Linked DNA regions of Homo sapiens. The protein of the gene in region 3 purifies or fractionates together with the protein of the main gene of each other region. This does not show direct contact. Each region holds a gene or a part of one and is shown on either strand. Other genes may lie near its edges.

The links.
Region 1: the proteins of RPP14 (region 3) and RPP38 purify together in Homo sapiens (co-immunoprecipitation; 2 studies listed by BioGRID and IntAct, with this or other methods). This does not show direct contact.
Region 2: the proteins of RPP14 (region 3) and CLIC2 purify together in Homo sapiens (affinity purification with mass spectrometry; one large-scale study listed by BioGRID and IntAct). This does not show direct contact.

Annotation. Positions count from the first base shown.
Region 1 is NC_000010.11:15,100,202-15,102,562, reverse strand, and holds part of RPP38 (ribonuclease P protein subunit p38), read right to left. Parts: intron 346-2,361; 5' UTR 227-345; intron 1-226. UniProt on the Homo sapiens protein: Component of ribonuclease P, a ribonucleoprotein complex that generates mature tRNA molecules by cleaving their 5'-ends. Also a component of the MRP ribonuclease complex, which cleaves pre-rRNA sequences.
Region 2 is NC_000023.11:155,324,456-155,328,115, forward strand, and holds part of CLIC2 (chloride intracellular channel protein 2), read right to left. Parts: intron 1-3,660. UniProt on the Homo sapiens protein: In the soluble state, catalyzes glutaredoxin-like thiol disulfide exchange reactions with reduced glutathione as electron donor. Displays weak glutathione peroxidase activity. Can insert into membranes and form chloride ion channels.
Region 3 is NC_000003.12:58,309,245-58,312,904, reverse strand, and holds part of RPP14 (ribonuclease P protein subunit p14), read right to left. Parts: intron 2,597-3,660; 5' UTR 2,576-2,596; coding exon 2,499-2,575; intron 2,399-2,498; coding exon 2,314-2,398; intron 1-2,313. UniProt on the Homo sapiens protein: Component of ribonuclease P, a ribonucleoprotein complex that generates mature tRNA molecules by cleaving their 5'-ends.

The DNA.
Region 1 (2,361 bases), on a different chromosome or scaffold from region 3:
TTAATCTTCTAACTTGTTACTGTTTTCCAAAATGCTATCTAGTTGGGCTTCCATGCATTCACTCAACAAATATTCTAGGCCTGGCACACTGGCTCATGCCTTCAGTCTCAGAATTTCGGGAGGCTGTGGTGGACAGATCACTTCAGCCCATGAGTTCGAGACCACTCTGAGCAAATGGAGAAACCCTCTACAAAAAATACATAAATTAGCTAAGTGTGAGGCGTACCTGTAGTCCCAGCTACTTGGGAGGCTGAGGTGGGAAGATCACTTGAGCCCAGGAGGTCAAGGATGCAGTGAGCGTGATTGTGCCACCACACTCCAGCCCAGTAACACATCTGACCCTGTCTGCAAAAAAAAAAAAAAAAAAATGATCTGAGCACCTCCAGTATGCAAGTGGTGTTCTAGGTCCTGGGGCTCACAGTAAGCAAGACCCGATGTCCACCCACGTAGAGCTCCCAATCTGCAAATACTCTGGTGGCCTCTGCCATTCACAACCAATCAGGTGTGATATTTTAAAGAACTGAACAGTCATCTCATGATTAAAACTTCAAATAACACTGTCACGTCCACTTTTGTAAGTCTCCCCACCTCCCAGGGCCCTAAATTTCTTGAATATCCTTCCTACAGCATTTGATACATATGCAGGCATACACTCCCTTTTTTTTGTTTTTTGAGACGGAGTTTTGCTCTTGTTGCCTAGGCTGGAGTGCAATGGCATGATCTCAGCTTATTGCAACCTCTGCCTCCCAGATTCAAGCGATTCTCCTGCCACAGCCTCCGGAGTAGCTGGGATTATAGGTGCCCAACACCACGCCTGGCTAATTTTTGTATTTTTAGTAGAGATGGGGTTCACCATGTTGGCCAGGCGGGTCTCGAACTCCTGACCTCAGGTGATTCACCCACCTCAGCTTCCCAGAGTGCTGGGATTACAGGAACGAGCCACCACTCCCGGCCAGTCCTCCTTTTTAGGGGGACCCCGAGCTGACTTCTCTGGCTGGCAATTCCATGAAGACTAGGGAAATGTAATGAAATTTAAAGATACTAATCCATTGAGGAAAAATGAGTAGAAGGATGCTTAATGGGGAAAATGTTATAAACTATTGGTCCAGAGGGCATATCCTTTTATCCTTCCCAGAGGCAACTACACACTCCCTTCTCTTCCCTCAGTTTTCTTCCCTTCCTTCCTGGGGCTCAGCTAGAATCACAGGGACCCACCTGGCAAAACTAAAGGAAGTTATATCCTTTGCATTTATACTACCACTTACTAGGCTGGCAGCTGATGTTGAAGGCAAGTGTGTCTGTGCAGTGTATCGCTGTATAAAGCACTCTCTCCATGTATTATTTGCTTCTTACAGCATTCCTATAGAATCCCCCAATGTGTGCATTAGGAAACTGACTCACTGCCTAAAGTCACAACTAGTTTTCCAAATCCAAGTTTTCTGTTCTTTCAATCCTTGCTACACCTCAAAAATAACCTGTGGCTTCTTAAAACATGCAGATGCTTGGTCCTCAACCCAGATCTACTGAATTGGAATCTTCAATAATAAGGCCTGGGCATCTGTGCTTATAAAAAGCTGCCCCAGGCCGGGTGCAGTGGCTCACGCCAGTAACCAAAGCACATTGGGAGCCCAAGGCGGGCGGATCATAAGGTCAGGAGTTCGAGACCAGCCTGGCCAATATGGCGAAATCCCGTCTCTACTAAAAAATACAAAAAAATTAGCCAGGCATGGTGGTGCCTGCCTGTAATCCCAGCTACTTGGAGGCTGAGGCAGGAGAATCTCTTGAATCCAGGAGACGGAGGTTGTAGTGAGTCAAGATCGCGCCACTGCATTCTAGCCTGGGCGACAGCAAGACTCCATATCAAAAAAAAAAAAAAAGTTGCCCTCGTGAATCTGATTCAGAGCCGGAATCAGGAACCACTGGTGTAGGACAGGGTGTTTCCACACTGGACAGCCCCGAGAAAGGGCCCCCTGAGCGCTATTGGTCTCTGATATTCTTCCCAGACACTTTCCCACAGAAAAGCCAAATTCAGCTCCTTAGGGTGAGAGATCACACCCTGGTCATCTCGGTACAGCAATCCTGGAGACTTCTGGGGCCTAAGCTGCTTCCTTCACGGTGGCCACACTGTGTCCCCTGACCCCATTATCTCTATGCTCCCCTAGAGCTCAGGAAATCAGGAAGAAAAGTGGCTCATCCAGATGCAATGCAGTGACTGTGAGGGGCTGGCATCAGGTTCAAAGTGGTCAGGAAGAGGGAAATAAGTGACAGGGGGTGAAACAAATAGGATGGGGCAGAGCTCTTGCCAACTGCAAGTCAGATGATGTCTCCACATCCAAACACCACAGAATAAATACTTAAAAT
Region 2 (3,660 bases), on a different chromosome or scaffold from region 3:
CACCACACATCTACAACCATCTGATCTTTGACAAACCTGACAAAAACAAGAAATGGGGAAAGATTCCCTATTTAATAAATGGTGCTGGGAAAACTGGCTAGCCATATGCAGAAAACGGAATCTGGACCCCTTCCTTACACCTTATACAAAAATTAACTCAAGATGGATTAAAAACTTAAACATAAGACCTAAAACCATAAAAACCCTAGAAAAAAACCTAGGCAATACCATTCAGGACATAGGCATGGGCAAAGACTTCATGACTAAAACAACAAAAGCAATGGCAACAAAAGCCAAAATTGACAAATGGGATCTAATTAAACTAAAGAGCTTCTGCATGGCAAAAGAAACTGTCATCAGAGTGATCAGGCAACCTACAGAATGGAGAAAATTTTTGCAATCTATCCATCTGACAAGGGGCTAATATCCAGAATCTACAAGGAACTTAAATAAATTTACAAGAAAAAACCAAACAACCCCATCAAAAAGTGGGTGAAGGATATGAGCGTCTCAAAAGAAGACATTTATGTGGCCAACAATCATATGAATAAAAGCTAATCATCACTGATCATTAGAGAAATGCAAATCAAAACCGCAATGAGATACCATCTCACATCAGTTAAAATGGCAATCATTAAAAAGTCAGGAAACAACAGATGCTGGAGAGGATGTGGAGAAATAGGAACACTTTTACACTGTTAGTAGGAATGTCAATTAGTTCAATCATTGTGGAAGACAGTGTGAAAATTCCTCAAGGATCTAGAATCAGAAATACCATTTGACCCAGCAATCCCATTACTGGGTATATACCCAAAGGATTATAAATCATTCTACCATAAAGGCACATGCACACATATGTTTACTGCAGCACTATTTACAAGAGCAAAGACTTGGAATCAACCCAAAGGGCCATCAATGATAGAATGGACAAAGAAAATGTGGCACAGATACACCATGGAATATTATGCAGCCATAAAAGAGAATGAGTTCATGTCCTTTGCAGAGACATGGATAAAGATGGAACCCATCATTCTCAGCAAACTAACACAGGAACAGAAAAGCAAACACCACATGTTCTCACTCATAAGTGGGAGCTGAACAATGAGAACACATGGAACACTGGAGCCAGTTGCGGAGTGGGGGGAAATGAGAGGGAGAGCATTACCTAATGCATGTGGAGCCCAAAACCTAGATGACGGGTTGATGGGTGCAGCAAACCACCATGGCACATGTATACCTATGTAACAAACCTGCACGTTCTGCACATGCATCCAAGAACTGAAAGTATAATAAAAAAGAAAATGTGATATATATATATATATATATATATATATATATATATATATATATATGCACACATACACACACCATGGAATACTACTCAGCCATAAAAAGGCACTAAATAATGGCATTTGCAGCAACCTGGAAGGAATTGGAGACTATTATTCTAAGTGAAGTAACTCAGGAATGGAAAGCCAAACATGGTATGTTCTCACTTATAATTGGGAGCTAAGCTATGAGGACGCAAAGGCATAAGAATGATACAATGGACTTTGAAGACTCAGAGAAAGGGGTGGGGGAGTGAAGATAAAAGACTACACATTGGGTACAGTGTACACTGCTTGGGTGACGGATGCACCAATATCTCTGAAATCACTACTATATATCTTATTCATGTAACCAAACTTCACCTGTTCCCCAAAAACCCATTGAAAAATAAATAATTCTTTTTAAAAAGAAACAAAATCATTGTGTTGTATACATTGAATATATACAATCTTTATTTGCCAACTAAATACTCTAAAATAAAAAAGGAAAAAAGAAAATGAGCAAAGGACATGGACAGACATTGCACTGAAGAGGACATGCAGATGACAAATAAGCAGACAAAATGTTCAATTTTATTAGCCTTTTGGGAAATGCAAATTTAAACAATAAAATGTCACTACACAGCTTTCAAAATAGTTAAGATAATAATAGTGACAACACAAAATGCTGGTAAGAATGCACAGAAATATTGCTGGTTTTAATGTAAAATAGTATGACCACACTGGAAAGCACTTTGGCAATTTCTTCCAAATCTAAACATGCAGCTGCTACGCGACCAAACAACTAGACCCTTTGGCATTTATCTCAGAGAAATGAAAACTTATGTCCATAAAGAAACCTGTAAAAGAGGATTTATACAGCCTTGTTTGTAATAACCCAAAACTAGTGACAACCAAAATGTCCTTCAACAGCTGAATAATTAAACAAACTGTGGCATATCAGTATCATGGAGTAGTACTCAGCAATAAAAAGGATCAAACTGTTGATACACACAACAACTTGGATGAAGTTCCAGGGAATTGTGCTGAGTGGGGAAAAAAAAGACAATCCCAAAAGGTGATATACTGTTTTATTCCATTTACGTAACATTCTTGACATGATAAAATTATCAAAGCAGAAAAGAGATTAATGGTTGAGGGACTGGATGAGACACAAGTGGATGTGGCTTTAAAAGGGCAACACGGATCTGTGTAGTGATGAAAATCTTCTGTATCTGACTGCATCAATGTCAATAATGTCCTGGTTTTCTTATCATACTATAGTTTTACAAGATGTTATCATTAAGGGAAACTTGGTAAAGGGCACACAGCATCTCTCTGTATTATTTCTTAAAACTGCATGTGAATCTTCAACTATCTCAACATAACAACGCCTTAATTTTAAAAAATTTTAGTCATAAGAAACCAAGACACACATACATACAGATAATATATTTAATGTTATAGAAATAAATTCATAATATATTGTGAAATAAAAATAGTTTGCAAAACAATGTATTAAAAGTAATGGCAAAAAGCGCAATTAATTTTGTACCAACTTAATATATGAAATAACCTCTTTTTGATGAATGTATTTATCTATATATGTGAGGAAATAAAGCATAAGAGGCTATACACATAAATGTTAAAGTGGGTGGTATCATGGATGATTTTTATTGATTTTATTTTCACTTAGTGATATTTTGTAATTTATGTAACTAAAATAAAATAAAGTCACTTTTTTAAAAAAGAATGAGATCATGTCCTTTATAGGAACATGAACAGAGCTAGAAGCCATTATCCCTAGCAAATTAATGCAGCAACAGAAAACCAAATACCACACATTCTCACTTACAAGTGGCAGCTAAAAGATGAGAATACATGGACTCAGAAAAAAAAATAGCTAATGGGTACTAGGCTTAATACCTGGGTGATGAAATAATTTGTACAACAAACACCCATGACACAAGTTTACCTAAATAACAAATCTGCACATGTACCCCTGTACTTAAAAGTGAAAACAAAAACAAAACAAAAGATCATTTATCATGACCAAGTGCAATTTATTCCAGTGATGCAAGAATGGTTCAACATACACACATCAATTAATGAGATACATCATATCAACAGAATGAAGAACAAAAACCTCATGATCATTTTAATTGTTGCTGAAAAAGCATTTGATAATATTAAACATCCCTTTATGACAAAAAACCCTCAAAAACATGGGTATAGAGGGAACATACCTCAACAGAATAAAAGCCATATATGACAAACCCATAGCTAGTATTATACTGAATGGACAAAAACTGAAATCCTGTCCTCTAAGATTGGGAACATAACAAGGATGCCC
Region 3 (3,660 bases):
ACTGCAACCTCTGCCTCCCAGGTTCAAGCAATTCTCCTGCCTCAGTCTTCCAAGTAGCTGGGACTACAAGCGTGCGCCACCATGCCCAGCTAATTTTTGTATTTTCAGTAGAGAAAGCGTTTCACCACGTTGGCCAGGCTAGTCTCAAACTCCTGACTGTAAGTGATCTGCTCATCTCAGCCTCCCGAAGAGCTGGGATTATAGGAGTGAGCCACTGCGCCTGGCCCATAAGGAGACTTTCTCATTAAAAGTGGTTCTGCTGCAAATTCCTTATCTCTTCAAGATGGGAAAAGAGTTTGCAGGTGCCAGTCTAGGCCACACTTTGAGTAGCACTGTGCTACAACAATCATTTGTCTAACGTGTTCCTTGTCAAACAGAAGGCATATTAGAATAAACCCAACAAAATTCATCACTTCTGAAAGTTTACTTCTGCAATTTCAAACACAGTTTTAAAATAATCTCTAGGGGAATACAAAAATTAGCTGGGCGTGGTGGCAGGTACCTGTAGTCTCAGCTACTCGGGAGGCTGAGGCAGGAGAATCACTTGAATCCGGGAGGGGCGGGGGGGGGTGCGGAGGTTGTGCCACTGCACTCCAGCCTGGGTGACAGAGCGAGACTCTGTCTCAAAAAATAAATAAATAAAAATAAAATAAAATAATCTCTAGGGGAACCCTCACACACTACTGGGAGGAATGTAAATGTACAACCACTGTGGAGAGCAGTATGGAGGTTTCCCAAAAAACTAAAAATAGGTCAGGTGCAGTGGCTCATGTCTGTAATCCCAGTGCTTTGGGAGGCCAAGGCAGGAGGATTGCTTGAGTCCAGGAGCCTGGGCAACATAGTGAGACCTTGCCTCTACAAGTAAAAAAATTGGCGTGGTGGCACACGCCTGTGGTCCCAGCTACTCGGGATACTGAGGTGGGAGAATCACTTGAGCTTGGGAGGTTGAGGCTGTAGTGAGCCATGACCATGCCACTGCACTCCACCCTGGGCATCACGGCAAGACTTCATCTCAAAAACAAAAAACAAAAGAAACTAAACTAAAAATAGAATACCATTTAATCCAGCAAGTCTACTACTGAGCATAAATCCAAGAGAAAGGAAATCAATTCAAAAAGACATGTGCAGCTGGGCATAGTGGCTCATGCTGTCATCCCAGCACTTTGGGAAGCCAAGGTGGGGAAAAAAAAAAAAAAGGACATATGCACTCTCATATTTATTGTATTCCCAATAGGCAAAATGTAGAACTTAAGTGCCCATCAATGGATAAAAAAAAAAAAGTGGTATATATTACAATGGAATATTATTCAGCCATAAAAAAGAATGAAATTCTGTCATTTGCAGCATCATGAATAGAACTGGAGGCCATTTTGTTAAGTGAAGCCAGCCAGGCACAGAAAGACAACTGTTGCATGTTCTCACTCATATGTGAGAGCTAAAAAAGCAGATCTTGCCAGGCACAGTGGCTCGTGCCTGTAATCCAGCACTTTGGGAGCCCAAGGCGCGTGGATCACCTGAGGTCAGGAGTTCAAGACCAGCCTGGCCAACATGACGAAACCCTGTCTCTAGTAAAAATACAAAAATTAGTTGGGCATGGTAGCGTGTGCCTGTAATCTCAGCTACCAGGGGGGCTAAGGCAGGAAGATCCCTTGAATCTGGGAGGCAGAGGCTGCAGTGAGCCAAGAATGTGCCATTGCACTCCAGCCTGGGCAACAAAGCAAGACTCCATCTCAAAGAAAAACAACAACAACAACAACAACAACAACAAAAAGTAGATTTCATGAGGATAGAAAGTAGATTGGTGATTATCAGAGGCTGGGAAGGGTAGGAGGGTAGAGAGGATGAAGGAGGAAAAAAAGGAATACAAATGTGTTTATTACAATAAATGAATAAAAATTTAAAAATACAGAGTTGTATAATTTATTTTTTTTTTTTTTTTGATGTTTGAAAAGCATTCTTTCTCGATTTTTTTTTTTGTGACAGAGTCTCGCTCTGTTGCCAGGCTGGAGTGCAGTGGCGTTATCTCGGCTCACTGCAACCTCTGCCTCCCGGGTTCAAGCAATTATCCTGCCTCAGCCTCCCGAGTAGCTGGGATTACAGGTGCCTGCCACCACACCCAGCTTATCTTTGCAGTTTTAGTACAGATGGGGTTTCACCATGTTGGCCAGGATGGTCTCGATCTCTTGACCTCATGATCTGCCCACCTCGGCCTCCAAAGTGCTGGGATTACAGGCGTGAGCTACCGCGCCCGGCCTCTTTCTGTATTTCTTACAAAGATCTTTGGAATGTTCAATCTACCAAGTGATTCCATACCTCCCCAAACAGGTCCTTCACAGCCGAAATAAGCAGCTGTTTGAACTGTGCAGCATTCAGTCCAACTCCACAATCTTGAAATTCTCTAAAAAAAGTGAAAAAAAAAAAAGTCATATTAAATTTCATTCTATTCAGATTCATGTTAGAAAAGTAATCTAAAATAGAACTTAGGAAACTAAACTTACAGGCAGACTTTCATGTAGTGGTACTCGGAAGGGTTTTTGTAAACTACTCTTTCATATGTGGCAGCAGGGGCAGGCATCTTTTCCAGTGCTGATCACACCTACAGTAAGTCAAGAGGGCTAGAAATGACCAATGCACATGCTATTTTTCAGAGTTTTGATGAGAATTTGGCCTATTTGGGTTTTTTTTGTTTGTTTGTTTTAAGGCAGGGTCTCACCCTGTCACCTAGGCTGAAGTGCAGTGGTACAATCAGAGTTCACTGCAGCCTCCACCTCTGGCTCTCGAGGCTCAGGTGATCCTCCTGCCTCAGACTCCTGAGTAGCTGGGAGTATAGGCACGTGCCACCACATCCAGCAGATTTTTGTATTTTTTGTAGAGACAGGGTTTCACCATGTTGCCCAGGCTGGTTTCAAACTCCTGGGCTCAAGCAATTTGCCCAACTCAGCCTCCCAAAGTGCTGGGATTACAAGTGTGAGCCACCAGGCCCGGCCTTCCTGTTATTATTATTTTTTTTTTGGAGAAGGAGTCTTGCTCTGTCGCCCAGGCTGGAGTGCAGTGGCACAATCTTGGCTCACTGCAACCTCTGCCTCGCGGATTCAAGCAATTCTCCTGCCTCAGCCTCCCGAGTAGCTGGGATTATAGGAATGTGCTACCACGCCCGGCTACCTTTTTTGTATTTTTAGTAGAGACAGGGTTTCACCATATTGGTCAGGCTGGTCTCGAACTCCTGACCTCGTGATACGCCTGCCTCGGCCTCCCAGAGTGCCGGTATTACAGGTGTGAGCCACTGTGCCTGGCCTCCTGTTTGGTTTTTAAGACTTCTGAGCACAGTAACTCATCTAATTCTGATCAAACTAAGGTTACCCATACGAATACAAAATAAGTTTCTATATTCTATAAATGTCAAATCACTGTACTCTTACTTAAAACATAACAACATAATTTTGGCTAACAATTTTCCTTATGAGCACCCAGCTCTTTGCTAAACATTTCACATGCCTTAGCTTGTCTTCAAAATGCTCCTGAGGTAAGAGGTATTATTATTCCCATTTTCGAGAAGATGACACAGAGGTTTAGTAAACGTAGGTAACATCTGCCCAAGGGTGCCCAGAGATTCCAACCACTCTGAGCCCACTCAAGACCAGTTACGATGCCTCTTTATCC